Regions from separate parts of the Homo sapiens genome. Here regions 1, 2, 3, 5, 6 and 7 are each linked to region 4. Evidence: fine-mapped expression QTL. A gene starts in region 4. Each other region holds a variant in brackets. All regions are shown on one strand. Distances are from middle to middle. Region 1 has its middle 40 kb from the start of METTL6. Region 2 overlaps SH3BP5 (SH3 domain binding protein 5). Region 3 has its middle 49 kb from the start of RBSN. Region 4 holds the start of SH3BP5 (SH3 domain binding protein 5). Region 5 overlaps SH3BP5 (SH3 domain binding protein 5). Region 6 overlaps SH3BP5 (SH3 domain binding protein 5). Region 7 overlaps SH3BP5 (SH3 domain binding protein 5).

What was found. PIP is the estimated chance that this variant, and not a neighbour inherited with it, causes the effect.
Region 1: its variant is fine-mapped to the expression of SH3BP5 in whole blood (INTERVAL, PIP above 0.99).
Region 2: its variant is fine-mapped to the expression of SH3BP5 in whole blood (TOPMed, PIP above 0.99).
Region 3: its variant is fine-mapped to the expression of SH3BP5 in whole blood (TOPMed, PIP 0.99).
Region 5: its variant is fine-mapped to the expression of SH3BP5 in whole blood (TOPMed, PIP above 0.99).
Region 6: its variant is fine-mapped to the expression of SH3BP5 in whole blood (INTERVAL, PIP above 0.99).
Region 7: its variant is fine-mapped to the expression of SH3BP5 in whole blood (TOPMed, PIP above 0.99). The same link has a PIP of 0.9 or more in skeletal muscle.

The regions. Positions count from the first base shown.
Region 1 is chr3:15,385,253-15,389,318 of GRCh38, forward strand. It overlaps a transcript of METTL6 not described here. Among named protein-coding and RNA genes, the nearest start is that of METTL6, 40 kb to the right of the region's middle. The variant C/T (reference allele first, on the strand shown) is at 1,533.
Region 2 is chr3:15,267,445-15,271,502 of GRCh38, forward strand. SH3BP5 (SH3 domain binding protein 5) reads right to left here. Exons shown (of 9, transcript NM_004844.5): 4 at 2,269-2,433. Among named protein-coding and RNA genes, the nearest start is that of SH3BP5-AS1, 15 kb to the left of the region's middle. RefSeq lists enhancers at 499-1,038, 1,039-1,577, 1,757-2,956, 2,024-2,073, 2,134-2,433 and a silencer at 602-711. The variant A/G (reference allele first, on the strand shown) is at 2,374.
Region 3 is chr3:15,146,178-15,150,243 of GRCh38, forward strand. No RefSeq gene overlaps it. Among named protein-coding and RNA genes, the nearest start is that of RBSN, 49 kb to the left of the region's middle. The variant T/G (reference allele first, on the strand shown) is at 2,213.
Region 4 is chr3:15,330,551-15,334,616 of GRCh38, forward strand. SH3BP5 (SH3 domain binding protein 5) reads right to left here and starts at 2,036. Exons shown (of 9, transcript NM_004844.5): 1 at 1,721-2,036; 2 at 1-16. The coding sequence starts at 1,858. RefSeq lists silencers at 1,605-1,664, 1,745-2,144.
Region 5 is chr3:15,291,717-15,295,782 of GRCh38, forward strand. The region is part of intron 3 of SH3BP5 (SH3 domain binding protein 5); the gene reads right to left. Among named protein-coding and RNA genes, the nearest start is that of SH3BP5, 39 kb to the right of the region's middle. The variant C/T (reference allele first, on the strand shown) is at 1,674.
Region 6 is chr3:15,276,919-15,280,984 of GRCh38, forward strand. The region is part of intron 3 of SH3BP5 (SH3 domain binding protein 5); the gene reads right to left. Among named protein-coding and RNA genes, the nearest start is that of SH3BP5-AS1, 25 kb to the left of the region's middle. The variant C/A (reference allele first, on the strand shown) is at 2,309.
Region 7 is chr3:15,256,063-15,260,128 of GRCh38, forward strand. SH3BP5 (SH3 domain binding protein 5) reads right to left here. Exons shown (of 9, transcript NM_004844.5): 6 at 3,699-3,741; 7 at 2,769-2,988; 8 at 791-1,051; 9 at 1-241. The coding sequence ends at 24. It overlaps SH3BP5-AS1 (SH3BP5 antisense RNA 1), which reads left to right. Exons shown (of 3, transcript NR_046084.1): 1 at 1-1,544; 2 at 2,572-4,066. Among named protein-coding and RNA genes, the nearest start is that of SH3BP5-AS1, 3.9 kb to the left of the region's middle. The variant C/G (reference allele first, on the strand shown) is at 2,043.

The DNA.
Region 1 (4,066 bases), 55 kb after region 4:
ATTAGTAGCTTATGTTCAATTTAGGAACTGCCCCTTCTTTTTTCCTTTAAAAACCCACTTGTTGGCCAGGCGCAGTGGCTCACACCTGTAATCTCAGCGCTTTGGGAGGCCGAGGTGGGCGGATCATCTGAGGTCAGGAGTTTGAGACCAGCCTGGCCAACATGGGGAAAACCTGTCTCTACTAAAAATACAAAACATAGCTGCGCGTGGTGGTGCACGCCTGTAATTCCAGCTACTAGGGAGGCTGAGGCAGGAGAATTGCTTGAACTCGGGAGGCAGAGGTTGCAGTGAGCCAAGATTGTGCCACTGCACTCCAGCCTGGGTGACAGAGCAAGATTCCATCTAAAACAAACAAACGAACGAACAAAAAAACCCCACTTGTTGACTGCTTGAAGCCAAGAGTTCAAGACCAGCCTGGTCAACATAACAAGACCCTGTCTCCAAAAAAACAAAAACAAAAACCAAAAAATCCACTTGTAAGTGCTGCTAATCACAGCATATATTCAGGGCAACTTAACTTGAATCTGTGTCTCCTGGGCTGTAGCCCTCAAATTTGGCCCAAATAAACTCTCTGCTTACATTAATTTTGCCTCAGTTTATTCCTGTAGGTGAACCAATAAAAAAGAGCTCTTAGAATTGTAGTGTTACCAGAAAGGGATCCCAATCCAGACCCCAGGAGAGGGTTCTTGGACCTTGCACGAGAAAAGAATTTGGGACAAGTCTGCAAAGTGAAAGCAAGTTTATTAGAGAAGAAAAGAAACAAAAGAATGGCTCCTCCATAGGCAGAGCAGAGGCATGGGCTGCTCTATGAGTAAACTTATGGTTATTTCTTGCTTATATGCTACATATGGGGTGGATTATTCATGAGTTTTCTGGCAAAGGGTGGGCAATTTCCAGAACTGAGGGTTCCTCCCCTTTTTAGAATATGTAGGGTAACTTCCAGGCACTGCCATGGCATTTGTAAATTGTCATGGTGCTGGTGGGAGTGTCTTTTAGCATGCTAATGCATTATAGCTAGCATATAATTGTTACCAGCAGCAAAGCCACATGGGGCTGCAGCAACTAGATGCCTGCTTCCTTGGAGGACAGAATTCAGCCAAGGGGCAGAAGCAGGTTTAAGGCAGAGGGAGAGATTGAGACAACTTTTAGAGCAGGAATGAGAGTTTATTAAAAAGTTTTAGAGCAGGAATGAAAGGAAGCAAAGTCCACTTGGAAGAGGGCCAAGTGGGTGACTTGAGAGATCCAAGTGCCCTTTTCAGCCCTTGACTTGAGGTTTTATACATGGGCATGGTTCCAGGGTTTCTGCTTCTCTTCCCTTAATTGTCCCCTTGGGGTGGGCTGTGTGTATGTGCAGTATGTTTACTGAAGTTGTACACATGCTAAGTTGAGGTGTGTTTCCATTACCAGTCAAGTGTTCCCAGAGGAAGGTCATACACCCATTAAACTCTGCTGTTTTGCCTCTTAGTGAACGTGCCTTAGTCCACTTGCCCAACTCCAAAGATCTTACCAGGAAGCTGCTGATTACCAGTTTT[C/T]GGTGTTTCCTTTTCTTTTTTTTTTTGAGACAGAGTTTCACTCTTGTCACTCAGGCTGGAGTACAATGGTGCAATCTCAGCTCACTGAAACCTCTGCCTCCCAGGTTCAAGCGATTCTCCAGCCTTGCCTCCTGAGTAGCTGGGATTACAGGCATGCACCACTACGCCCGGCTAATTTTGTATTTTTAGCAGAGATGGGGGGTGGTTCTCACCATGTTGCCCAGGCTGGTCTTGAACTCCTGACCTCAGGTGATCCACCTGCCTCAGCCTCCCAAAGTGCTGGGATTACAAGCATGAGCCATGGTGCCCAGTTAGTTTCAGGTGTTTTCTATCTATTGGGAGATTGTCTTTCTCTGGCACTGGCTACAACCAATTGTTATTTTAGAGAGACAGTTTAACAACTGCCTGACCATCATCTGATGATCACCTGACATTCCTGGAGACAGGGCCCTCCCCTGCCCTGCTCATGTCTGCCTAACTACCGATTCTAACATAATGAACAGTGAGGATGACCAGAGGTCACTTTCATTACCATCTTGGATTTGGCAGGTTTTGGCCAGCTTCTTTACTGTATCCTGTTTTATCAGTAAGGTCTTTGTGACCTGTATCTTGTGCCAACCTCCTATCTCATCCTGTGACTAAGAATGCCTAACTGCCTGGGAATGCAGCCCAGTAGGTCTCAGCTTTATTTTACCCAGCTCCTATTCACTTTGGTTCAAATGCCTCTGACAGTAGGGGCCAAGGGAAAAACTTCCCCTTTGTCCTCTGAAGGTTTACTGAAAAATCAACTCACAAAATGCAGATTAGTAGGAAAAAGGCATCAAAACTTATTAATGTGTACACAGGGGAGAATCAGAGTGATCACTCAATATCCCAGTGGGGCCCAAATACTTATATAGCCTTATTTGAGAGGGGAGTGAGGAGATGGGGAATATAGGTAATTCTGTTGAGGTACAATAAACGATTGCTAGGGAGAATGAATGGATCAGGGAACAGAGATTAGCTTGTAAATCGTTCTCTTTGAAAAAAAGATTTTTTTTTTTTTTGAGACAGGATCTTGCTCTGTCCCAAAGGCTGGAGTGCAATGGTGTGGTCACAGCTCACTGCAGCCTTGACCTACTGGGCTCATGTGATCCTCTTGTAACCACCCATGGGTTCACCTTGCCTGCTGCCTAGACAGAGCCAATTTATCAAGACAGGGGAACTGCAGTAGACAAAGAGTAATTCACACAGACCAGCTGTGCGGGAGACCAGAGTTTTATGATTACTCAAAAAAGTCTCCCTCAGTATTTGGAAATAAGAGTTTTGTTGTTGTTGTTGTTGTTGTTGTTGTTGTTGTTTTTGAGATGGAGTTTCGCTCTTGTCGCCCAGGCTGGAGTGCAATGGCGCAATCTCCACTCACTGCAACCTCCGCCTCCTGGGTTCAAGTGATTCTCCTGCCTCAGCCTACTGAGTAGCTGGGATTACAGGCACATGCCACCATGCCCAGCAAATTTTTGTATTTTTAGCAGAGACGGGATTTTGCCATGTTGTCCAGGCTGGTCTCAAACTCCTGGCCTCAAGTGATTCGCCCGCCTCGGCCTCCCAAAGTGCTGGGATTACAAGTGTGAGCCACTGCACCTGGCCAGGAAATGAGAGTTTTTAAGGACAACTTGGTGAGTAGGGGAAAGCCAGTGAACCAGGAGTGCTGATTGATCAGGTCAGAGATAAAATCATAAGAAGCTGAAGCTGTCTTCTTGCACTAAGTCAGTTCCTGGGTGGGAGCCACAAGATCAGATGAGCCAGTTTATCCATCTGGGTGGTGCCAGTTGATCCATCAAGTGCAGGGTCTGCAGAACATCTGAGCACTGATCTTAGGAGCAGTTTAAGGAGGCCCAAAATCTTGTAGCATCCAGCTGTATGACTCCTAAACCATAATTTCTAATCTTGTGGCTAGTTTCTTAGTCCTACAAAGGCTGTCTAGTCCCCAGGCAAGAAGGGCGTTTGTTTTGGGAAAGGGCTGTTGCCATCTTTGTTTTAAACTATAAACTAAGTTTTAAATTATAAACTACTTTTCTCCCAAAGTTAGTTCAGCCTACACTCAGGAATGAACAAATACAGCTCGGAGGTTAGAAGGAAGATAGAGTTGGTTCAGTCAGATCTCTTTCACTGTCTCAGTTATAATTTTGCAGTGGTGGTTTCACTCCTGCCTCAGCCTCCTAAGTAGCTGTGACTATAGGCATATGCCACCATGCCCAGCTAATTTTTTTTTTATAGAGATGGAGTCTCACGGTGTTGCCCAGGCTTGTCTCAAACTCTTGGGCTCAAACAATCCTTCCTGCTCAGCCTCCCAAAGTGCTGGGATTACACGCATGAGGCACCACACCTGGCCTTTTTTTTTTTTCTAAGTTTTTTGTTGTAGGTTGTGCTACATTTCCCAGGCTGGTCTCGAACTCCTGCCCTCAAGCAATCCTCCCACTTTGGCTCCCCAAAGTGCTCTTTGGAAATTGAGCCTGAGAGAAGAATATTATCTTGTGAATAAGTCTGTTTAGGTG
Region 2 (4,058 bases), 63 kb before region 4:
TATGCAACTGTGAAGGGATCTGGGAAGAGGAATATCAGCTCAAAGGTGGAAATCCTGGCATGTGACCCGGAACACCTGCCAATCTGCAGAGGTTGCCCCCAAGCCCAAGAAAACCAAATGGGCCCTTCCCTTCAGTGGCCACAGAGAAGGCACATATCAGCTGGCCCTCCCAGGGCCCTATGAAGCCCTCATGACCTCAGGAGTACAGGGCCATCTTGTATAGCCCCACAGGTCTTGCACTGCACAACTCCAAAAAGCGCTATTCCCAAAGTCTGTGGTATGAACGGTGCCCTGAGTTATACAGTGTGGAGGTCTGGGGATGCCACTCCTTGGGAGGCCACCCACTATCCACTGGGGCCCTGGGACTTAAAAATGAGAGATACACAAAGCAGAAGCATGGTTTGTTTATCTTTAAACAACAGATTAAATGACTTCTGAAATGCTTGCTTATAGGCTGACATGGGTCTCCAGCTGGGGTGGAAGAAGGGCAAAAAGGAAAAGTGGCCCTTCAGCTAATTTCTTGGAAGAAGCTACCTTACATTTTGTCCTTTTCATATCTATCGGGCTTTGGCTTGTGAACTTCCAAGATTTCCAGCCACCCCTTCCATTTTTCTCGAGATGACCCAGAAAAGTTGTTTCTAGCCCACGTCTAGCTCTGTGAGCATCACGCCCACTAGGGGGCAGGAGGCGCAAGGCCACACAAAGCCAAGCTCAGCCGAGAGTCTCAGGCTGCAGGGAGAGGTGCGTAAAGTCAACGCGGATTTGACTCTTGAAGTCATTTGTGTGCCAAGCTTTCTATTTAAGGAAGCACAAGGCCATCTTTAATTATCAGATCCCCCAGGACTTGAGCCACTGTGGCAGGTGACATTTAAAAGGGAAATCCTATTGGCATTAACCTGCTGACTTTTCTAATCCAGTCCCCCAGACGGCTTTCTCAAGGAGTCACCAAGACCTCTTGCAACCCCGTACCCGCGCCGTCCAGGGTCTTATTGGAGCTGCTGAAGCCACAGGTCAGCTCACCCACCCACCCTGCAGCAAACCAGCCCTACACTCGTTTTCCAGGCGCTGGGAATCTAGACAGAGAATGCAGAGGGGCACAATGGACCCAGGCTGGTGTGGGGGGATACCAGGAACATGAGCCTGGGCAGCCCAGGAGCCAAGCCTGGAAGGGGGAAGAGGTATCCAGGAACATTCTGCGTGACTTCTAAGAAACCCGATAGAGTTAGGCAGGGGTAACCAAGTACTGCTGAGCCAAGAACTGTCCCTAGCTGCTATGGTCTGAACATTTGTGTCCTCCCAAAATTCTTATGTTGAAACTGATCCCCAGTGTGAGGGTATCTGGAGATAGGGCCTTTGGGAAGTGATGAGGTAATGAGGGTAGAACCATCATGAATGAGATTAGTGACCTTATAAGCTCATGTACCCCTTCCACCGTGTTAGGACATGGAAAAGATGGTCATCTGTGAACCAAGAAACAGGCCCTCATGAGACACTGAATCTACCAATGTCCTACCTACCAATGCACTTCTCATCCTCCAGAGCTGTGAAAAATAAATTTCTATTGTTTACCAACTACCCTGTTTATGGTATTTTGTTTAGTATTTTGTCTTGGCCTGTACAGACTAAGGCACACCATTTCTGGCTCTGAGTAACGCAGTCAGAGAGGTGGTCATGAGAGCCAGTAAAGAACCCAATATAATGACATAAAACCCAGCAAGCCAAGCTGTGAGTAAGGATCACACACAGTCCGCTTCCTCTGTGCCTGTCAACTCCCTGAATCCCAGCCCAGAAGGCCTGTCGTAAGTACACACCTGATTCTGGTCTAATCCGCCATGACCCCTGCCTTCCTCCGACAGCACATACCCGAAGTGCAGCCCCCATTTAGGGCTGTTCATCAAGGTCTCCCCATCACAGATTCGAAACCCAGCCAGTATTGCTGGGGTTCCATGGGAGCAAACCCTGGAAAACCTCGTCCCTCTGGAAGCCTGAGTCCAGTCAAGACCCCCTGGGGATGACCCAAACCAGACAAACCTCAAGCAACATAAGGGAAGGAGCAGCTCTCGCTGTCACGGAGAGACACTGTGACTCATTCTGGAGCACTGGCTTCGTACCAAGCGCAGCCAAGAGATCATACGGAGATGACAACCTGTGATTTTCAGGGTGTTTTCAGGCAACATGCCTGGGAGTCGAGTCTGTTACCTCCGCTCAGGGGAAGCCAGCGCGCATGCACGCGCACACCCCCACAGCACACCCGGCCATGACTCATACCCTCTGAGTGGCGTGATTCAGCATCTCCTGCCAGGCGGAGTCGAACTGCCGCTTGTCATCCTCCAGCAGCCGCTGCTCGGCCAGGGAGATGGTCTCCTTGGCGGC[A/G]CGGAGCACCTCTGTGGCCCTCTGGAAGTCCTGCGTGGCTTTCTGAGCTTCCAGCTGAGCCTGTGTGAGAAAGAATCCTCATGAGGCCTCAGAAAATGGCAGGGGCTCCCCATGGTCCATTTTACCTTTCAAAAAATAAGCATCCCAAGGACCAGGACAAGCTCATCTCTGCCTCTTCACTCCTGGCACCCACAGGTCCTCATAGATGCCAGACAGGGCAATGGACCCCTGATGGGGGAGTGAGCAACAAATCAGTGAGCGAACAATTTCCACAGTTCTGGGCCCAATGGATGAGATAAACACATCAGCCCTTGGCCAGAACCTGACATGGCAAACCAGCCCATCGTGGGACAGGTACAGCCAACCCCACAGCCTTTCTCAGAAGCTCTGCCTCACTCGAGGCCTGTCACCTTCCCTGCCCAGATCTGTGGCTCAATTCATGGCAAGTCAGAACCAGGAAGGCCCCCAGAGATCATGGTCCAAAGACTTCACTCTATAGAAGGGGGACCTTAGCTGAGAGGACACAGCCTTTCCTGAGATCACACAGCTGACTAGATGCAGAGCTGTGCCAGACTCCAGCCAGTATGAGTTCCAGCCCAGCACTGTCACTCTGCCAGACAGTCTCCCACTCAACTCACACCCACTGACACCAGCGACAGGCCAAGTATGGCACCAGGCAGGCAAAGAGAAGGACCTAATTAATTAACACAACACGGTCCCTGCTTTCAAGGAGCATCAGGTGGGAGAACCAATACCAACTGTAGCTGACCACCACGTCTAGAGCTGCCCCCACTACATGTGTCTACTGATTGTTCAAAATGTGATTAATCCCAGCCAGGTGCAGTGGCTCACACCTGTAATCCCAGCACTATGGGAGGCAGGCGGATCACTTGAGGTCAGGAATTAAAGACCAGCCTGGTCAACATGGTGAAACCCCATCTCTACTAAAAACACAAAAATTAGCCAGGCATGGTGGTGGGCACCTATAATCCCAGCTACTTGGGAGGCTGAGGCAGAAGAATCACTTGAACTCAAGAGGCAGAGGCTGCAGTGAGCCGAGATTGCACCACTGCACTCCAGCCTGGGTGACAGAGTGAGACTCCATCTCAAAAAAAAAAAAAAAAAGTGATTAATCCCAATTGAATGTAAGACATCCCTAATCTTAAAGACTTAGTACAAAAAAAAAAGAATGTTAAATATCTCAATAATTTTTATTATATGATGAAATAATATTTTGGATATATTAAATTAAATTAAATATATTATTAAAATTAATTTCAGCTGGGTGCAATGGATCCCACCTCTATTCCAGCACTTTGGGGGGCCAAGGCAGGAGGACCACTTGAGGCCAGGTATTCAAGACCAGCCTGGGAAACATAGCAAGACCCTACTTCTGGAAAAAATTAAAAAATTATCCGAGCATGGTGGCACATGGCTGTATTCCCCACTCCTTGGGAGCTTGAGGCAGGAGACCGCTTGAGGTTACAGTGAAATACAATTATGCCGCTGCACTCCAACCTGGGTAACACAATGAGCCCCTGCTTCTTAAATAAATAAAATTTAAAGATTAAATTCACAGAGGCTGGGCACGGTGGCTCAAACCTGTAATCCCAGCACTTTGGGAGGCTGAGGCAGGTGGATCACAAGGTCAGGAGTTTGAGACCAGTCTGGCCAACATGGCGAAA
Region 3 (4,066 bases), 180 kb before region 4:
CCTTGGACAATACCCAGCTTTCAAGGACAGGACTCCCTGCGGCTTTCCACAGTGCATTGTGCCCCTGGTTTATTGAGACTAGAGAATGGGGATGACTTTTACCAAGTATATTGCTTGCAAACATTTTGTTAACAAGGCACGTCCTGCACAGCCCTACATCCCTTAAACCTTGATTTCATACAACACATGTTTTTTGAGCTCCAGGTTGGGTCAAAGTGGTTGGGGCAAAGTGGCTGGGGCAAAGCTACAGCCAATTCAAGCCAGCAATAAGGACCTTCAAAATGACCAAAATATGACTTGGTCCTTACCGTTGCTTTTACAACCTCAAAATCCTGCTCAGGTCACCTGCAAGGCACTCAGATTGTTAATCCATCAACTGCTCATAGAGATGACTCCAAACCACACAAACCCAAACTATCTGCATTTTTTAATCAATTCAGTTAAGCCTTATGGGCAAAACTTCAGAATTCAAGTAAAACAGAAGGTCTGTCTGAACATTTTCTTCAGTCAGCTGAAATTGGATGGAGGTTTCGTTGTGGTCCCTCAAGGAATAAACCATTATTTGACCCTTTCTCTTCCAGGTGAATTCTTACCCATTCCTAAGGTATAAGTCCTGTGTCACCTCCTCTCCTGAGAAGCTTTTTCTGTTGACCCCACCCAACTGTCCCTTCAGTCTCCTTGTAGTATTTGGAGGATACAAATCAGCACATATCATAGTGAAATGTGGTTTTACACATCAGAATCTCCTGCTATATTGTGAGGTTCATGGAGACAAAGACAATGTCTCATTTCTTTATTGCTGCATTTCTAGCCCCAAACACAGCATCTGATATCATACAATAGACATCCAACCAGGATTTGAAGAATGACTTACTGAATTATATTAATAAATATAACCTTTTCATCTAGGTGTTAGATTAGGAAGGGAATGGTAGATATCATGCCTTTTGCCAAGTTGATTAAATATTAATTGGAAAGTACTGCACGTCACATGAGCTTTAATCAAAAGACAATCTACATTTGTAACATCTAACTTTGACTTAATTAGGTTGATAACTACATATGCTATTCAGGACAGTAAAAAGACATGAGAAAATGAGAAGAACTATGGATCTAGAATGAAAGGGCGTGTATTTGAGTCCTAGTTCTGCTTCCAGCCTGTTGTGTGAGCTAAGACAAAAGCACAAGATCACAAGATGCCATGAATCACAATTTTCACCATTTATAAATGTGAATCTAGATAATACTGACTCTAGTCATCTCATAGGATTGTTGTATTGAATGTATAAGATGCTGTATTGGAAATAATTCACAAAGTATATGGATTGAACAAATGAGGTGTTTTATACTTAGCAATAGATAACAAGAAAAGCATAGGTTCTGGCATCAGATAGACAGTTTTGGACACATCTCCAACCCTCTCCAACCTTAACAAGTCACTTACTCTCTCTGAGTTTCTACTTTTGCATCTATAGAACGAAAGTATTAACACATACTAGCAGGGTTGTGATGAAGATTAAATGTGATAATACATACAAAATGCCTAATGCAGGGCTTCACACACAGTAGATGCTAAATAAATGTCTGTTTTCCTCCGTTCTTCCTAGTCTATTTGTATTTTTAGCTTCAATGTGTGGTGTTTAAGCTTCATCTGGAAAATGCGATCCTAAAATATCTACTGTACTATATTGCAATATATAGTGCTATCAGTTGTGAATAATTGGTTGTTGTGTTTATTAGAAAATAGTTGATATATACAAAACAAATGTTCTTGATAAAAGCAGAGACATCAAGGAAAATTTTATTTTTTAACAAAACTAAAAATAAACCCACTCGGCATGACTACTATTTAAAAAAAAAAAAAAGGAAAATAGCAAGTGTTGGCAAGGATGTGGAGAAATTGGAACCTTTGTCCACTGTTGGTGGGAATGTAAAATGGTGTAGCTGCTGTGGAAAACAGTATTTCTAATTCAAATATTAAGCTCTATAATGTTTAAAAATTGGTCTCTCATCTACTCACAGTATTTGCTTAAAGCTATAAATAATAGCTATGATTTAATGGAAAGACTAACACCACTAAAAGGTTTTCAAATGCTTGGCTATTTTATGACAAATGGGAATAATAATAATAACATATATACATATATACACATAATAATAATATGTATATATGTTATTATTATATTTATATATGTTATTACATATATATATA[T/G]AGAGAGAGAGAGGAAACTAAGAATGTTTAGCCCTGTGTCTGGCATATATAAAACTGTCAACAAATGTTAGATGTTTTTGTTACTATAAAGTTATGTAAATATTTTTTGTGACCTTAGAAAATCTGACTTTGTTCCATAAGTAAGGTTTTGCTGTGTAACCAATGCGTAAGTTATTATTTAACCACACATTCATAACATATATATTTTTTAAATATCTAGAATTTGGGAGTCTGACAGATTGCATTTTCCAAAGCCAGAAAACAATATCTCCCATTCCACATGCTCTGTGACCATGCCCCTCCTCCATGCTGGGGAGGAGTCAAAGTCTCCTCCTCTTGAATCTGGTCTGGACTTAGTGACTGGCTTGCAACCAACAGCATGAGAAAGCCATGTTACAGCCTGACTTCTGAGGCTGGGTCATGAGCCTTGCAGCTTCAGCCTTGGCCTCTTGGAGCACTCACTCTCAGGACAGACCCTCCCTGCTGGAGTACTTCCTGTCGGTTCCAGCTCCACCTGTCCTTGTGCAGTTCCAGCTAAGACGCCAGAGCAGCAGACATGTGAGAAGGGGCAGTGGGTCCTCCAACTCCTGCTTCTAGAGCCCAGACGGTCTAGTCTGAGACTAGTCAACCCAGCTGAGACCCCAGGCATGGAAGAAAGAGGCCCCTCTTTTGCTTCTTTTTCAGTGTCCCTACCCACGGAGTCTGTGAACATAATAAAATGATTATTTTACACAACTAAGTTGTGAGAGCTGTGGGGGACAGTGGGACTGTAAGTTATGGGTAACTGGAACAATGATTTAGTTATTTGTTCTTGTACACTTTCAACTTGAACTTCCAAATTTATGGGCCCCATTCTGAAACTGGTCTACATCTGCACAGAGATGTCTCTGCTGTTGAGTAGACCAATCTGACCAGCTTTTCAAGCCAACAACATTAAAAGCCATTCAGAGGACAACACATTGTGAAGTCGCCTTCTCTTGTGAGAAATGCATTAAAAAGAAACTAAGACCTACTAGAGTTGTTCTGTCAAATACAGGGGCTATTGAGCACTTGAAATGTGTCTGGTCCAAACTGAGATGTGCCTTCAGTGTAAAGTAACATTTAGAAGATAGTGTATAGAAAGAGTAAGATGTCTTATTAATTTTTATATTAATTACTAATGAAATGATAATATTTTAGATATATTGAGATAAATAAAATATATTATTAAAATTAACTTCACCTGTTTCTTTTTACTTTCTTTAAGATAGCTGCTATAAAATTTAAAATTATAAATGTCACTTGCACTATATTTCTAGCCCTGTACTAAAGGGTCTTTACAAAATATCTTGGTTTTATAATGTTGGCACAGTAAAGAAGGGGGACAAAACCATCTTTCACTCCAGACAGACAAGAATTTGCTTTATCCTGTTTGTCTGAAATTGGAGTCAATGGTCCTAATGGGTGGGATAGACCTTATGTCATTCTCCTAACATTGACTGGGCTCATTGAACCACAGACCAGGCAGAAAAAATAAAATAACACTTAAAGGACATTTTAAAACATAATAAAAATGGGAAGGAATATTTTCATTATTTCTAAATAAAATAGCAAAAATCCATCAATCATGTTCCTGAATGAATTTCTAACACCTAAGACTGTGCTTACTGAGGAAAAATAAATAGAAAAGTTGAGCAATTATCTTGTAAACGTAAAGAAATGTGACTCCATCTCAAAACAAAAAACAAAAAAACAAGAAATAGATGAGCTTACATGGGTCTCAGCAGCTACATTTTCCTCTGATTTCTGCTTATTTTCCAACACCCTAAATGTTCAGAATAATAAAACAATGTGCCACTCTAAGTGGAGCAATGA
Region 4 (4,066 bases):
ACTTCTCCAGTTCTCCCTGGTGAAGAAAAGAGGGAGAAAAAAAGACTTAAGGGATCCGTCTTTTGTTTCCAATATAACTCAGTCCATAACCTGAAAAATTACCCCAGCCCAATTTGCAGGAAAAGGGAAGAATCAGAATTAATTCTTACGGCAAACAGTTGAGGCTTGACTAGAAAAGCAAATGAATGTCGGCATTTCTGAAACCATTTTCTTGAGGGTGTCCCTTTTGACAATGTCTTCAGAGACATTTGGAATTTGTCAGAGGTCAACTATTCCAGGTACATGCCTTCAGGTAAACCCCACCTGTTACAAATGGTTTAATGGCCTAATCAAAACAGTACCATCTGCCTTGAGCAAGAACTTTGCTTAGAAAACAATAAAAGACAATAAGCAAGGCCAAGCCAAAAATATAAACCCAGTGAAATCATCAAGGGCAGAATTCTGGTATTAACTCACCAGAATTATTTTTCTGTAAAGGGTGAAAATCTTTTCACACTGCCAATTATTCAACCTACTTAGCTGGACGTTTTAAACTAGCTTTAATCCCATTCCTTTCAATAAACATTTACAAACTGACATTTTGTAAAAAAAGTATCCAACATGAACTTAACTCATCATTACTATGCAAACAAAGGATCTTGCTAACATAATCCCATACCAGTAACACACGATTTATTCCAAACCAATTACTTTAATTAATAGCATTCCTAATGCAAGGATTTTTTTTCCACCTGATCTTTATCTTGCTAAGCTGACAAAACAATTCATTTAAACCCCAACCACTGAGTTAAGTGAGCTTTTAAATTGATCTGTGCACTAAAAAACCAATTAGGTATCCAGAAATTACAGAGCATGCTTAAAAGCAATTTTTTTAAAAAAATGATTTATTGAAAAGGTAGAAAAAAAACGGGCCTTAGAAAGGGATTTGCTCTGCTTTTTGCTTAGGGGTGAAGAGGTGAAACTGTCACTCCTAGATCTCGGCTTGGAAATTGTTTTTTAATCATCTCTCTTGGAAATGGAGGCACAGCCAGCCAGCCCAATCCCCTCGCCGCCTCCACGCGTCAGCTTTGCGCATCAGTTGTCCCCGATTTCTTTTCATGCCCAACCTCACAACAAGGAAAAGCAGGGTTTTAAGCAATTTCAAGCCAGGCAGAACGTTGAGCCAGTGATGACAATAAGCCGCTCAGTTCGCTAACAATCAATCAGAGAAGGAAAACGGCTCAGGCCGGGCACCTTGGCAAGTGAGGACTCTGCACCCGGGGCACCGGTGCCAGCCCGCGCTGCAGGGCAACGCCCACCCGCCCACGGTGCCCGGCGCCCACGCGGGCGACACCTCCTCGCAGAGCCTGGACGCCGTGCCATGCCCGCGGTGCCGCGGCCGGGCAGGGGTACCCCCGAGGATACCATGGCGCCCCCGCCCCCTTTTTCCCTTTGTTGCACATCCACCCGAACCACCAGGCACGCTGCACCGACCCCGATCCTGCTACGGGTCGGCGGGGGACTCCCCGCAATAGAGTCAGGCCGCATCCACGCGGGCACTGTAGCCTCCTCATTGTGGAGACGATGAAACGGAGCATACAGACCGTCTCCTGCCACCCTATGTGGCCGCCAGTCCCCGGACCACAGTTACTGGGGGCTGCGAAGTGGCTGTACGCGTAGACACCGACCTCCGTAGCAGCCCTCGCGAAGCCCGGATGCGGGGCGACCCCGCGCGCCCTACCTGGATCCGGGGATCCACCTCTTCTTCCTCCTCCAGCCCCTGCTCCATCCCCTCTTCCTCCTCCTCCTCCTCGTCCCGGGCAGGCGGCAGGATTTCGGCTGGCTCCTCCGAGCGGCTCCGCTTCAGTGCCGCGTCCATGCAGGCAGCCGGCACGCGCGCCGCGCAGTGGGCTCCGGAGCGCCCCGGGGGTCGCGGCTGCCACAGGCTGGGCTGGAGCCGCCTCGCCACAGCCGGGCACGGTCGGGGAGCCGCCGGGGCCGACACCCGGGAGACGCAGCTCGCCGATGCGGATACCTCCGGCCGCGGCGGAGCAGAGGAAATGGGCGCGGCCGCCCCCTTTCTGCCGCGGCAGTCAGCGCAGCGCCCGCTCCGCCCCCGTCCCGCCCCGGCCTCGCGTTCCGCCGCCAGTCCCAGCTATCCAGGTCTCCGTCGCAAAACCCCAGCTCCCTCCACATCTCCAAGGTGGCAAAATAGGACAGCCCCCACCCCCTTGTAACTTAGCAGCTCGGATATATCTCAACTACGTAACGCAAGCCTCCCGCTTTCGGGAGTCCCCTCCTCCAGCCCTCCTCCGAGGCTCGTTGTTTGTGTGGTAGGGAGGCGTGGGTGTTTTCACACTGAAGTCGCCTTCTGAAGCCTACGCTCAGTGACCCTGGCCCTCAGGACCAAGACTTGCCGAAACCCTATACCCAAAGCACACTCATCCTCTTGAGCGAACCTTGGGAATGGCGGAGGTTCCGTGCACTGATGCATTGCCGAAGGCTGCGGCCTCTCTGGGCGAGCCCCATACCGAAACACAGAGGTGCGGCGGTCCTACCTGAATAGCCAGGAGCATGGAGAATGCATTGAGCTGGGATTTAAGGAGGTGGCAAGTGTAACCCCTGTTGATGGGCACACTCTGGCCAAGAATTTATGAATTAGTGAGACTTTCTGCCCACCATCAACAAGTAGGGAGACAGAGTTGGCCTGGCAGACACAGCATCCGAAAAGGCCAAACTGAAGAGGCACGTGTGTGTGCTTTTATGAAATGTCAGGGCCACTGTGATGTCAGGGGAACGCAAAGGATGACCTTGGCAAAGCAGATGAGCACATGGCTGCTCACGTCTCCTTGCCTTGAGAAATGCAGAACGTGCACATGTCCTACACGGAGGCCTGTAGCCCATCGGCTCTGAGTTTGGAGGACAAATTTGCTTGAGAAAGGAGCTTCTTTCTGAGAACCTATCATCAAAGCCACCTTACAAAACCTGGGTCTGGCACAACGTGGTGGCTCGTATCTGTAATCCCAGCTCTTTGAGATGCCAGGACACAAGGATCACTTGAGGCCAGGAGTTCAACACCAGCCTGGACAATACAGCCAGACCCCTTCTCAAATGAATAAATAGTCCTGCTCCTGGTGGTTTTATCAGAAACTAGGCTAGAGGGTTACTCCTTGGGCAAGGCACCACCCCATACACGCTGGCACTGTAGTCCACTGTCAAAGGAAATTTGTCCTGTCTCCTGGAGGTAGTGCCATGGTTTGTTTCTAAAAAGGTCAGACCTGTTCATTGCTCTTTAAATCAAGGATGAGTCAGCAATTCTGTGAGAGGTGCTTCAAAGCTCCTTGCTAAAGACATAGTTGCTTTTGGTTTTCCAATGATAGATGAAGCCAGGAACAAGATAGCCATAGGGGTCACTTTGGAACACAGGAGCCACCAACCTTCTCTGGTGGCTTGGAATTGAGCCTCCAACTTTGCAGGTACATCCTAGCTCTGAATGAACTGAGAGACAGAGTTTGAAATAAACAGAACTCTGGGGTCAGCCCTGACTATGATAAATGCTTCTCAGCTAGCAGAACCCTATCCTCTCCATTCTAAATGGCAAACTCCAAACTACATTCCTGCTTAAGCTTAGGTCAAGAGCAAAATACATCTATGAGACATAGGCCAACTGCTCAAGAACATCAGTTCAGACTTTTGTTGTCTTATTTTTTGGAGATCTGGGCCAGCTATAGTGTTAATCCTAATAGTCTTTCTAAAGATAAAATGAGAAAAATAAATAAACCACAGGCAGTACTATATACAGTCAACCCTCCATAGCCTCTCAGGTTCCACATGTGTAAATTCAACTAACCACAGATAGAAAATATTTGGGGGAAAAAAACACAACAATTAAAAAAATGCATATTTAAAAATACATGGCCAGGAGTGGTGGCTAACACCTGTAATCCTAGCATTTTGGGAGGCTGAGGCAAGGAGGATCACTGGAGGCCGGGAGTTCCAGACCAGCCTGGGCAACAAAGCGAGACTGCCTTGCTCTCTAGAAAAAAAAAAAATACAGTATATGACAACTATGTACATATTTGCATTG
Region 5 (4,066 bases), 39 kb before region 4:
TGGGAATATGCAGTCCCACCAGGTTGGAAGCAGGGTATTCCAAGCTATGGGAATGTTTGTAAGTCAGAACCACTTGAAGCCCCAGAGACCATAAATCTCTAAGTCTTATCAGTCATTTACTTCTCAGCATGAATAATTTCATCAGATTCTTCAGGGTAGATTTTCATAGAAGTCACAACTGGAAGGGCTGGGGAAGAAGTAGAAAAGAAAGGAAGGAAAGCAGGGGCATCCTCTGAGTCAGGAAAGGAACAGAAGGTGCACCAAGAGTGCACAGCCGGGGCCCAAACCTCGTCACCAGGCAACATAAAAAGGCCAGCCTGTGTCGACAAAACTCGTAGCAGAAACACAACCTATGCTCTGATTTCCTTTCACTGAAAAATTAATCACTCTGCCACTCTTGCCAGGGAATGCCTGTGGTTTACAGAGGGGAAGGGGCTATCCATGTCCATGCAATCACTTTACTGAAAGCAGAGTACAGTTGAGAAGAAGGAAGGAAACATCTGAAGAGCATCATGGTTTCAGGGAACCAAACTCCACACCCTGTTTCCCCTCTAACCACTATGCTGTGGTGACAAACCACACCTGTTAGCTTCACAGAGAACACTGCCTGCCCAGCAGCACCAAGGGGGGCTCAGCCATGCCTCTGTGAATAGCAAAGGAGATAAGAAAAAGGGAGTTGCCCATGACAAACCTCCCAACTAACAAGGTGATGGAGGGCAGCTCCTCCAGCCCAGTGCTTCCTGGCTAAGACCTGCCTGCAACCAGTCCCCCACGCGGACTTCCTGCCACCTGCCAGACAGAATGGGGTTGAATGCAAATGGTTCATGGCATCACCAGAAAAGAAAACCTAAGCCAGGCGCGGTGGCTCATGCCTGTAATCCCAGCACTTTGGGAGGCCAAGGTGGGTGGATCACCTGAGGTCAAGAGTTTGAGACCAGCCTGACCAACATGGAGAAACCCCATCTCTACTAAAAATACAAAATTAGCTGGGCGTGGTGGCGCATGCCTGTAATCGCAGCTACTCGGGAGGCTGAAGCAGGAGAATTGCTTGAATCCGGGAGGCGGAGGTTGTGGTGAGCCGAGATCACACCATTGCACCCCAGCCTGGGCAACAAAAGCGAAATTCCATCTAAAAAGAAAAAAGAAAAGAAAACCTCAAGATCAGCAACACTCTCCCTGCTCCAGCCCCAGACGCCCGAGGCAGAGCCAGCCAAGCAGGAGGTGCAACCCTTCTGGCAGAAGCCCAAAAATCTACTTGTGTGTGTCAGGAGCCTTTGACCTGGGTCAAAAGCTGCAACACATCTCCTTCCTGACCCCATCCTAATTCAAGATTCCAAGTTTCCAAAGTGCAGCTGCTTCTTTCCCAGAATCTTCAGCCAAGACTGTCAGGCAGGATGTGATCTTTCAGGCGAAGGAGAGTTAAGAGTCCATGCTCAGTTCTTGCCATAAATCTCCAGGAACTCTGCTTTGAGACAGATGCCCTGTCATTCCACTACGTGCCCTTACTTTGGGCAGCAGGAATGACGCAGTTCCCAGGAACTGGCCTGTGGCCACCCAGGGGGAATGTGACCAGGGCCACAGGGAAGAACGTCACTGAGCCAGACCTCCTCACCCAAAGTCCCGTGGCAAGAACTGCCCCCAGGCAGGCAAGTGGCTCTGCAGAGATAAAGTGA[C/T]GGGGAAGAAGGAAGGCATGACAAAGCCACACTGAAGTCCTAGCAGGAACAGGGCACCATGAGGGGAAAGTTCCCAAGGACTCCAGATTCTTGGAACAAGAGCTTCTCGGAACAAGAGCTTCTCAGTTACCCTAGCCAAGAAGAGGCAGGGGTGTGCAGGGAAATAACTGCACCAATGAGCTCAAAAACTGCCTTTAGTCCTAAAAGCCCATTCTCCTCAGATGTGCCAGAGTGTCTTTCAGATTTGCAAATAGTCATAAATGCCTCCTATGTGCCAGGCACCAGCCAGAACCAGGTAGACTTGGTTTAAACCTTCACTCCTGTCCTCGCAAGGTCTGTGATGTTAAAGTCCCCAAGCCTCAGTGATTATTCCCCCTCAGTATGATGAAAATAATATCGTCTTGCAGGCCGGACGCAGTGGCTCACACCTGTAATCCCAGCACTTTGGGAGGCCGAGGCAGGCGGATCATCTGAGGTCAGGAGTTAGAGACCAGCCTGGCCAACATGACGAAATCCTGTCTCTACTAAAAATACAAAAATTAGCCTGGTGTGGTGGTGTGCACCTGTAGTCTCAGCTACTCGGGAGGCTGAGACAGAAGAATCGCTTCAACCTGGGAGGCAGAGGTTGCAGTGAGCCGAGATTACGCCACTGCACTCCAGCCTGGGCGATAGAGCAAGTCTCCATCTCAAAAAAAAAAAAAAAAAAGAAAAGAAACAAGAAAAAGAAAAGAGTACCACTTTGCAAAAAGTACTCGCTGTAAGGATTAAATGAGATAATGTACATAAAAGACCTATGACCACAAACCCAGGCCCCTAGCACAGCCTCAACAAATCAGGGCTGCAGATAGCCCCTTAAGAGAACACAGACTCTAAGCCCCAGTTTCTTCTTCTGCAAAAGTAAGTGTGTGTGTGTGTGTGTGTGTGTGTGTGTGTGTGTGTGTGCGCGCGCATGTTTACGTAACTCCCCCTCATGCATGTAAAACACTTAGAAAGTGCCTGGTATACAAAGAGTGTTGAAATTACTCTTCTTCCTCCTCCCTTCCATCCTCCTTTCTTCCTCCCTTCCATCCAGTAAACTGTCACCGCCATACCACTGACTCCCATTTTCCCTGCATTCTGGATAGATAATTAACCAAGTCTGTTACAGTCTCCCTTCACATTCTCTTAGATTAGGCCACAACACCGGAAAGGTTTATGTAAAGGCCCAGTCTTTGGGCTCCAAGACTAGTTTCCTCATTCGTACTATAAGGCCAAAAGGGAAACAATGACAGCCCCCGCACAGAGCAGTGTGTGTGGCACCTAATACATCATTAGCGCTCAAAAAATGGCAAAAAATGGAGCTGCCATTAATGTAAGGACATCAATTTCTCAAACACAACCTAAGCCCCCTAACTCAAGAGCCTACCATGGCTACTTTGCAGCTTCTCAACCAAGTCTGAAGGGTAGGCTGAGGCGTAAGGCACCCTCAGCTGTCCATGCTGTTCCTTTCCTGACTGGTCCTTTAGCTCCCCTAAGCCTCTCTTTCCAAGGCTCTGGCTTCCTTACCCAAGTTCATATCTGCACTGACCCCTCCCCTCAGATCTCTGCTCTTCTGTCTTTACCAGCCACCCTTCCTCTTGTGCTTCGGAGTGTGCACAGTGTGTCCTTCCCCTCAAGCCTTTCCCCTCAAGCCTTCCTGATGGGCAGCATCTCCCGCCAACACACACACACACAGTGACACACTCCCTAGCTTCTTCCCTTTGCCATCTACATCAGAGCCACATGGTTCAGCGCACTAACAAATAAGCCTCTCCATGTGGCTCTTGGCAAATACAGTCAGTCCTCATTATTCACAGCTTCCGTATTTGTGAATTTGCCTACTTACTAAGCTTTATTTGTAACCCCAAAATCAACACTTGCAGTGTTCTTGGGGCCATCCATCGACATGCACAGAGTGGTGAAAAAATGAGCTACCTGATACATACGTTTCTAGCTGATGTCCAACAAGAAGCCACCCTGCCTTCTTGTTTTGGCTCTCATACTGTACACAAGTGTCCTTTCCTCGGTCCTTTTAGTGCTGTGTTTTTGACATTTTTGTGCTTTTTGTTGATGATTTTTCTCTATAAATTGGCCTCCAAGTATAGCAATTAAGTGCTTTCTAGTGCTCCTAAGTACAAGAAGGCTGTGATGCGCCTTATGGAGAAAATGCTTGCGTTAGATGAGCTTCGTTCAGGCAGAAGTTATACCACTGTTGGCTGTGAGTTCAGTGTTAATGAGTCAACAAAACGACACATGCAGAAAAAGGAAGAGGAAATTTGCCAATCTGAACATGAGTTCACTCAAGTAAGTGCTAAAGTAACATCCGCTGTGCATGACGAAGCTATGGAAAAGATGAAAACATGGCTGGATTTGTG
Region 6 (4,066 bases), 54 kb before region 4:
CCCGACAGGCCTAACCCAGAGCTTTCATTCTAAATTTTTTTTTTTTCTTGAGATGGAGTTTTGCTCTTGCCACCCAGGCTGGAGTGCAATGGTGCGATCTCGGCTCACTGCAATCTCCACCTCCTGGGTTCAAATGATTCTCCTGCCTCAGCCTCCCAAGTAGCTGGGATTACAGGTGCCCGCCACCATGCCCAGCTAATTTTTGTATTTTTAGTAGATACGAAACAGGGTTTTTTAGTAGATACAACGGGGTTTCACCATGTTGGCCAGGCTGAACTCCTGACCTTAGGTGATCCGCCTGCCTCAGCCTCCCAAAGTGCTGGGATTACAGGGGTGAGCCACCACACCCAGCCTCATTCTAAACTTCTATTAAACACCACTTGCCGGTGCTGCAAACTCCTGACAAAGAAGTACCAGTCAAGGCAGCGCAGCCTTAGCTCTCCACACAAATCAAGGACACAGTGGCCACCGTCACACAGGTCGGGATGGGCAGGGAGGTTTGGAGGGTATAAGATTTGCAGAGACCGCCAACGAGGAGCAGAGGAGAAGTGGGGAGAAGGCCTGCTGCTGTAGGAGCTGAGCTCATCCCCAACCAGAGTCCCGAAAATGGGGTCTAGAGAGGCTGATCCTGAAAGCCCTCATGCCTGCCTGAGCTTAGCCTCCTACCCCCCACCACACAGTCTCACCTGCTCTGAGGAACAACTTGGACCCCATTCACAGGGGAGCCAGGAGCATGAATGAGATGCAGAGAGGCACGGGGCAGGCAAAATTTCCCCACCTAGAGGCACAGGCCTCCTACTGCCTTCCCCACTCCCCTTTCTAAATGTCTTAGTACTTAAAATCCAAAAGGACTCTGGGGTTTACTTGGGAATGGTTGGGCTCAGTATGCATACACCCCCCCAGCACTTGGCCAAAGCAATGATGGAGCAAAAGAAGCTTCCAGAACCCCCTGGATGCCTGGACATGGATTGGGAGGAAGGAATGCCCCACTTTCTTCTAGAGAAAGTTGGAAAGATACCAGCCCAGGGCGAAGCAGGCTCTGCGTGAGGTGAGCAGTGACCCTGCAGGCACGGGGTGGCAGGACCCGGAGGAAAGAGAAGCCCCAGCCAAATGACAGGTCGGCCAGCTTCTACCCCTCGTGCTTCGCTGGAGGAATCTCACCCCCACAGGGCCCGGGGCAAGGCCCCTGCTCGATGGGGGCAACCACTTGGTAGGAAGCCTCTGTCCTTTTTAACTTGATACTGTTTTGTCCTTGCCTCTTTACAGTGAATGTCACAGGCACTGCTGGAAAGAACCCCTCCCCCGGCTAGAAGCTCATGAAGAAAAGCATCAGAGGCCTTTCCAACCCAACCGAGGAAGATCAAAAACCTTTGAAAACATGGTCAATAACCCCTGGGGGGTCTCAGTGAGGGAGGGATGGGCAGGACAAACATCAAAATGGACAAGAGACAAGGATGTCTGTTCTCAACTTTATTAAAGCCGTGGTTTTCTGCCTATATTCTGAGGAATCCCAGGGACCGGCAGTTCATGGACTGCCTGAGTCCTTCCAACCTGCAAGCTGCCCATCCTGCACTCCCCCTTCAACTCCTGAATGATGCTTCATTGAAGAGGACCAGAGATAGAAACTGGCCATTCTGATAGCACCGTTTCACCCCTGAGGATGTCTGGCATATATTTTAATCCAAATTATCTCAGAACAAAGTTTCCTTTGAAAACATCTTCTGGAGAGAATTCCATTAAGCCCATTTAGTTCCTTGATTATTTTTCACACCGAGGTGCTTCTAATTTTTCATTTTTATTTAGTCAAAATTATTCTCCTGAGGATTGATTCCTTTCTATTTCAAATAGATTTGATTGAATGAACAGTTTCATCCATATCAAATTTTACTAAATGTAGCTTGTGGCACGGAGTTTTTCATTATTTCTATCAAAATTTTCCTGAATCAGTTTCTTAAAGATCTAAAAATTTGGTGAGGCGTGGTAACTCATGCCTGTAATCCTAGCACTTTGGGAGGCTGAGGCGGGCAGATCACCTGAGGTCAGGAGTTCAAGACCAGCTTGGCCAACATGGCGAAACCCCATCTCTAATAAAAATACAAAAATTAGCTGGGCCTGGTGGCAGGCACCTATAATCCCAGCTACTCAGGGGGCTGAGGCAGTAGAATCATTGGAACCTGGGAGGTGGAGGTTGCAGTGAGCCGAGATCGCACCACTGCATTCCAGCCTAGGCAACAAGAGCGAAACTCTGTCTCGGGAAAAGAAACAAACAAAAAAAAAGATCTAAAAATTTGTCAAACATAGGGGACAT[C/A]ATTTTTTCTCGGTCCCAAAGGTTACCATGTACAGTCTGAGCCATTATCAGTTTAATAGTGTTATTTCTCCCAACAATGTATATTACAAAGTAAACAAGAAATCTATGGTATGTATCTACCCTTAGAGAAATGAGAAAACCACGGGCAGTCTTAAGAGAGACAGCACCTGCAGCTGTACCATAGACAGACTACAGAGCCCTTTAATATGTCGGAGCAGCAAGAGAGCTTTGCAGGGTTAGAAATATCAAGGTCAAACGGTTTTGTTCCAGCCTGAGCTTAAAGGGGAACTTTTAAAAAATAAAAATGTAAAAGCTACTACTTGCTTCAAAATACAGCTAGGAGTAAGAAGGGAGAGCTGGGGGTGGGGGTAAAGATGAAACAGGATTGCCCCAAGGTTGGTAATAGAAGCTGGATGACAAACATCCAAGGTTCCATTACACTGTTGTCTATTTTGCATATATTTGAAAGTTTTGACCCCAGTTTCTGGCAAGACAATCCCTACTGCCAACAGTCATCCAGACTAACCAGGGGTGAGTCTGACTCAAGGGTTTCGGTTGGGGGCATCAGGGAAGGTTCATCAAGCACTGAGCCCACCTCTGCTTATCTTCAGTACTAGACACCAGCCTGCAGTTCACCTCTGGACACCGCATGTTCAGACACAGCACCCAGAGGGCTTCCCATTGCACTCAGGAAGCACCGGTTCCTCTGCCTTAAGCTGGCACTATTTGTCACCCTACAGAATCTCCCTAATTCATGTAAAAGCTGGCAGGAGGATGGTCTTGGGCCTTATGTTTTCACAGGGCACTACTTAGCCTGAGTCAGTGTGCCTCGGCTAGTTAGCCGACTGATGTCTATGACCTGTCCCCACACTTCCATCCTTTCACAATTACAAGCAGCTTACAGGGCCTGCCAGCTACACACAGCAGGCCTCCGGGAACGACGCATCCCAAATCAAATCCTTCCTGTTGCTGCAGCAACCCCATAGATGCCAGGCTCTTCCTGCCCACCCTAGCCAGAAGGGTGCGCCCACATTCCTCCTCATCCTCCTCCCGCTCTCACCTTCATGCTCTAGCAGTGTGCCACCGGCTAGAGAATCGACTGGCCAGGTGCAAGGCAGGGGCCTGAGCTGGGGGTAGACAGCAGTACCCAAAAGGAAAAAAACCCCACAACAGCACCCCAGGGTACCACCACCAAACCTAGACTCCTCACCCACAGAACCAAATAACAGGGTCTTTGCGCTCAGGGAGACGGAGACAATGTAGACCAATTGTTTTATTTTCTAGGAGAAAACTTCAGAGCCTAACAAATAAATTGGCCTGCTCAAAGCATCAAGCCTGGGTATTCTATCAGCCCCAATCCAAGCTGCCTTCCCTGCCAGCCAGCCACACAGCCATCCCCGACATCACACTCTCGCACTCTCTCTGTCCCCAAAACACACACGCAACATGCCCCACCTCTTAATTCTTCAAATGTGTGCAAACTCACAGAGCTCCTCCACTGCGGTGGGTTTCCCTGAGCTCAGCAGGGCTGTATCTTCCTCCCTGCACGTCCACTCACAATTCTCTTCCATCTCTGCCTTTGTCCCCCACCTACACTGTCATTCCCAGGACCCACAAAACACCAGCATCTCTTAAGACACACACACACCAATCAGGGAAGCTATTTCATCCTCCACTGGGATGCACGATGCAGACCCAGGCCACGAACCTGGTCATTGCCTGACATTGTGAGGGAGTGGAGAGCCCTGCTTTATGCCG
Region 7 (4,066 bases), 74 kb before region 4:
CATCGGCCAGGGCCCAGGATGAATCAGCCAATCTGCACCATTTTTATGTCAGCAATAATTCCATCTCTTCCCTTTGAGCACTGTAGGGAGAGCTGCTTCATCCGGTTCTCCAAGGCCTGGCCCTCAGGGGAGGTGCTGCTTTGGCTCTTACTGCTGCCACCACTGCCACTGCTACTGCTGAGGCCCCGGTTGTTGTTGGCTTTGTCACTTGTTTTATTCTCTGCCCCTTCTGCCCTGTCTCCTATAGAAATACAAGGATTATCAAAAGTGAGTATTGACAATTCTGCCCTGTCTCCTATAGAAATACAAAGATTATCAAAAGTGAGTATTGACAATTCTAAGTCACTTGAGCTCAAACCAGTCAGCTAACTCAGCCCTGTAGAAGTCCCACTGTTACCTACCGTGCCTATCAGAGAGGTTCTCAGTACATAATCATTTACTGCTTTTATTCCTTGTGATGTTTTATATATTCCTTAGCTATAGAGATGAAATTTGCCATATTCACTTTATTGCTGAGAAACAAACCTCTCTACTATGTGCTTGCCAAGGAGACTGTTCTGATGTGAGACATAGGACCTAAGCTCTACTTTATAGAAGCTGAGTGGAGCCAGGAGCCCCCCCAGAACAGCACTTGGAAACAACCTCAGTGATCAATACTGACAGCACAACCACAGAGACCTGGTAATGCAGCATGGGGGCCCTGAGACCTGGCAGAGGTATGGAATGGCACAACAGTCAGGCTACAGAGGCAGTGTGGCATCTGGGACGGGGTGAGAAGGCTGCTACTCACCTCGTTCTACTTCACATTCAGGGGAGGAGGCCCCGCTGCATTCACTTCGAGGGCCCAACACTGGGAACATCATCCCAAACTCTGACAGGGACACAGGGCTGGGCAGATCCAGGCTGCCAGGCCTCACAACCGCAGGGAACTGGTCAGGCATCTCAGACGGGCTTGTTGGTCCTGAACTAAAGCTGGACACGGACTGGGTTTCCGAGTCATCTTCAGACACAAAGTTGCTACAGCTGTCATCTTCAAAGGCCTCCGAGGCCACTAAGTTGAGAGAGAACACCAGTCACATGGGTTCTGTCACCTCCTCAAACACCACAAGTGCTTGCTGCTGGCAGGCAGCTAGACACAGCATGGGGGACTAAAGAGTCTCTACCTCTGTGAGTGCCTAATGAAGGAATGTGACTTCCCAAGCCTGAATGACCAGCCTCTAAAGCAGCTGGAAGGGAAGCAGCTGGCAGCAGGATCCCATGGATATTAAGCGCCCTTCCAATAACCTTATAACCCTGCCAAGAAATCAGTGTCACCAGACACCACCTAAAAATGGAAGATTAATTCAGCCACAAATTAGGACCTTTACTCCACCTCAGTCCCCCAAATACATCCTCATGTGCACAGGAAGAGGTTCTAGTCCTCTGTAACATATCCCAAACAAAGCCAGCTGGACTCAGGCTTCTTTCTTAGGGCAATAGAAGCAAGAGCTGCTAGAAGAAACAGGCCAGCATGGAACATCTGTTGGGACCTTTGTTATCTCCAGGTAACTTCTGATCTCATAAAGAACACACTCAAAGGCTACCCACATCACCATTTGCTGCAAAAGAACAGAAATCCTTTACAATGCTCTGTAGCCACATTATTTGGTAGACCAAAGTAACAAGGCCCAGACACATGTTATTCCCATGGTTTCAAAGCCTCTTTGGCCTTTAGCGGTTTTCCCTCAGCCTGCCCACAATCCCACTCCTTATTAGAACTTTCCTACTCCATTTTTCCCCCCCTTTCTCTTTAAAAACAGCCTTGTAGCATTCCATAAAGGTTTCTTATAAATGATAAATACTGTAATGTTGGGGACAGAAAATGGGCTCAGACCTGAATTGAATCCCTAACTCCACTACTTGCTGTGTGACCTTGGTCAAGTTACTTTACCTCTGTAAGCTTCATGATCCTCTCCATGCAGGGTTTGAGATGATGTATATATTAAAGTACCTCATACATAGTAGTTGTTCAAATGATAGTTTCCTTTTCCTTTACCTTGAAC[C/G]TAGTACTTAAATATTTGTTGAAGGAATTAACTCCTGAGGAAGGAGCTTGGGAAAGAGCCGACAGGGATTATTGCACAGGTAAGGAAAAGAAAGGAAGTATGCAAAGACAGCGTTGGGTGGGTTTTCTTGATGAGCATGACAGAAACCAAGTCAAACTTCTATCAGTTTTCCAGGGGGAGGCCCTGGGAAAAGAGGTCTCTATGGTCAGATGTCAGTAAGAGCCACCATTTGCTGAGTGCTTCTTGGGTGTCAGGGGTTGATTCATGTAAGCTGAACCACCACCCTACACAACGGATAGTATACAGTAGATAGCGTCATACTCCCCATTTTACAGGTGAAGAAACTGAAATACAAAGTTAGGCCCTTGCCCACATCATGCCTTAGTAATGATGTAAAGGTAGCTTTGAATCAAATCTGATTACAGCTCTTCTTTCCTGCAGGACTTCTCAGCCTTGAATGTTCAAATGTATACTTTGACTCTCAAAGAGGAGTGAAGGTGTAACATTTTCCCAATTTATTTGACCACAGAATCCTGACTTTGAGGAACACTTAGTACCTTCTTAATGAACACAGTGTTCCATAAAACATGGGAACCCACCAGAAATAGCCCTCAGGCCTGCCCAACTCTGAGACCTTTCACTGATGGCCAGAGAAAGTGAGGACCTTGGGAAACAAATCACACAGTCTGATATCTCCCCACATACCCAGTGGAGCCCCTGACTTACCAGAAATGGCATCAGGCTCAGGTTTGCTCCCTGGCAGATCCTCCACAGATGTGCTGCTGCCCTCAGCACCAACACCGCATCCCCGAGGCCCCATGGCACTGGAGCGCCGCCGCTCGTGGATCTCATCTGAGATCATCTCCAGGTTCTTCAGGGCCATCTTGTACTCGCCTTTTGCCAGGGTCAGTTTGGCCTGCAGGTCATCCACAGTCTTTTTCAGTTGCTGATCAAGAGAACAGGAGACTAAGTGAAGACTACCCTGCTAGCCTTAAGATGCTTTCTGAATGACAGGTTCAAGTACATTTTCTGCCCATCATTCTACTTCAAGGAATTTTCCAAGACATGACTGAAGACCTAATTACCATTGTAACTGCTATTCATTCACCAGACAAAATCAGCCACCACCATCCCCAGATCCCATCCAGGTGACAACCTCTAATATCCAAAAACTCTCACTGGTGGAACAAACCCCATCAGGGAAGCAAAAATGGGCATCAGACACACCAAAGTCCCACAGTCTAGACATCTGGTTCCCAGTACAGTGGTTCTCAAAGTTGAGCTTGCATCAAAATCCCCTTGGGTGTTAAGACTCAGCTCACTAGACTCCAACCTCAGAGTTTCTAATTCAGTCGGTCTAGAGTGGGACCTGGTCTATCAGGTCTCCAGGTGATGCTGATGCTGCTGGTCCTAAGAGCATGCTGTGAGAACCACTGGCCTAGTACAACAGAGAAGGTGACTGAATGGCAGTTACAGAGGTTCAGAGACCACTGAAGACCCAACCGAGACAATTTTGAGGTCTGAAAACTCAGTAAAGCCTGTCTCTCCACTTTCCCCTTATAGCAAGTGGCCCATGTGATACTCTGCTACCCCAGAAAAGTGAAGCTTTGAGTGCAGAAAAATCTCATCAGTGACGAAGCCCAAAGCTACACATACCTCGAGCTGCACATAGTACTTTGCCTTGAGTTCAAAATAAGGCCTGCAGAAGACAGGAAGGAAAGCCATCAGAGTAATATAATACAGTGACCACAGTCAACTCCACAAGATGAACAAGAGGCATCAGCTACCACTGGCCAGGTCGTCCTTCCAATATTTAGTAAACTCTTAACAAGGCCGTGACATGTCAGTGATGCTCCTAGCTCTGGAGACTGACAGACACCAGATGGAACGACTGGGCTCACCCAGGGCTATATTAACAGGAGGCCCATCTCAAGACACGGGGAACCCACACACACATATCTTGGGGACTCTGCAACTTAGCTCATGTTCCTCCTCTGTGGGAAGGCTGTTCAGAGCCTCACAGG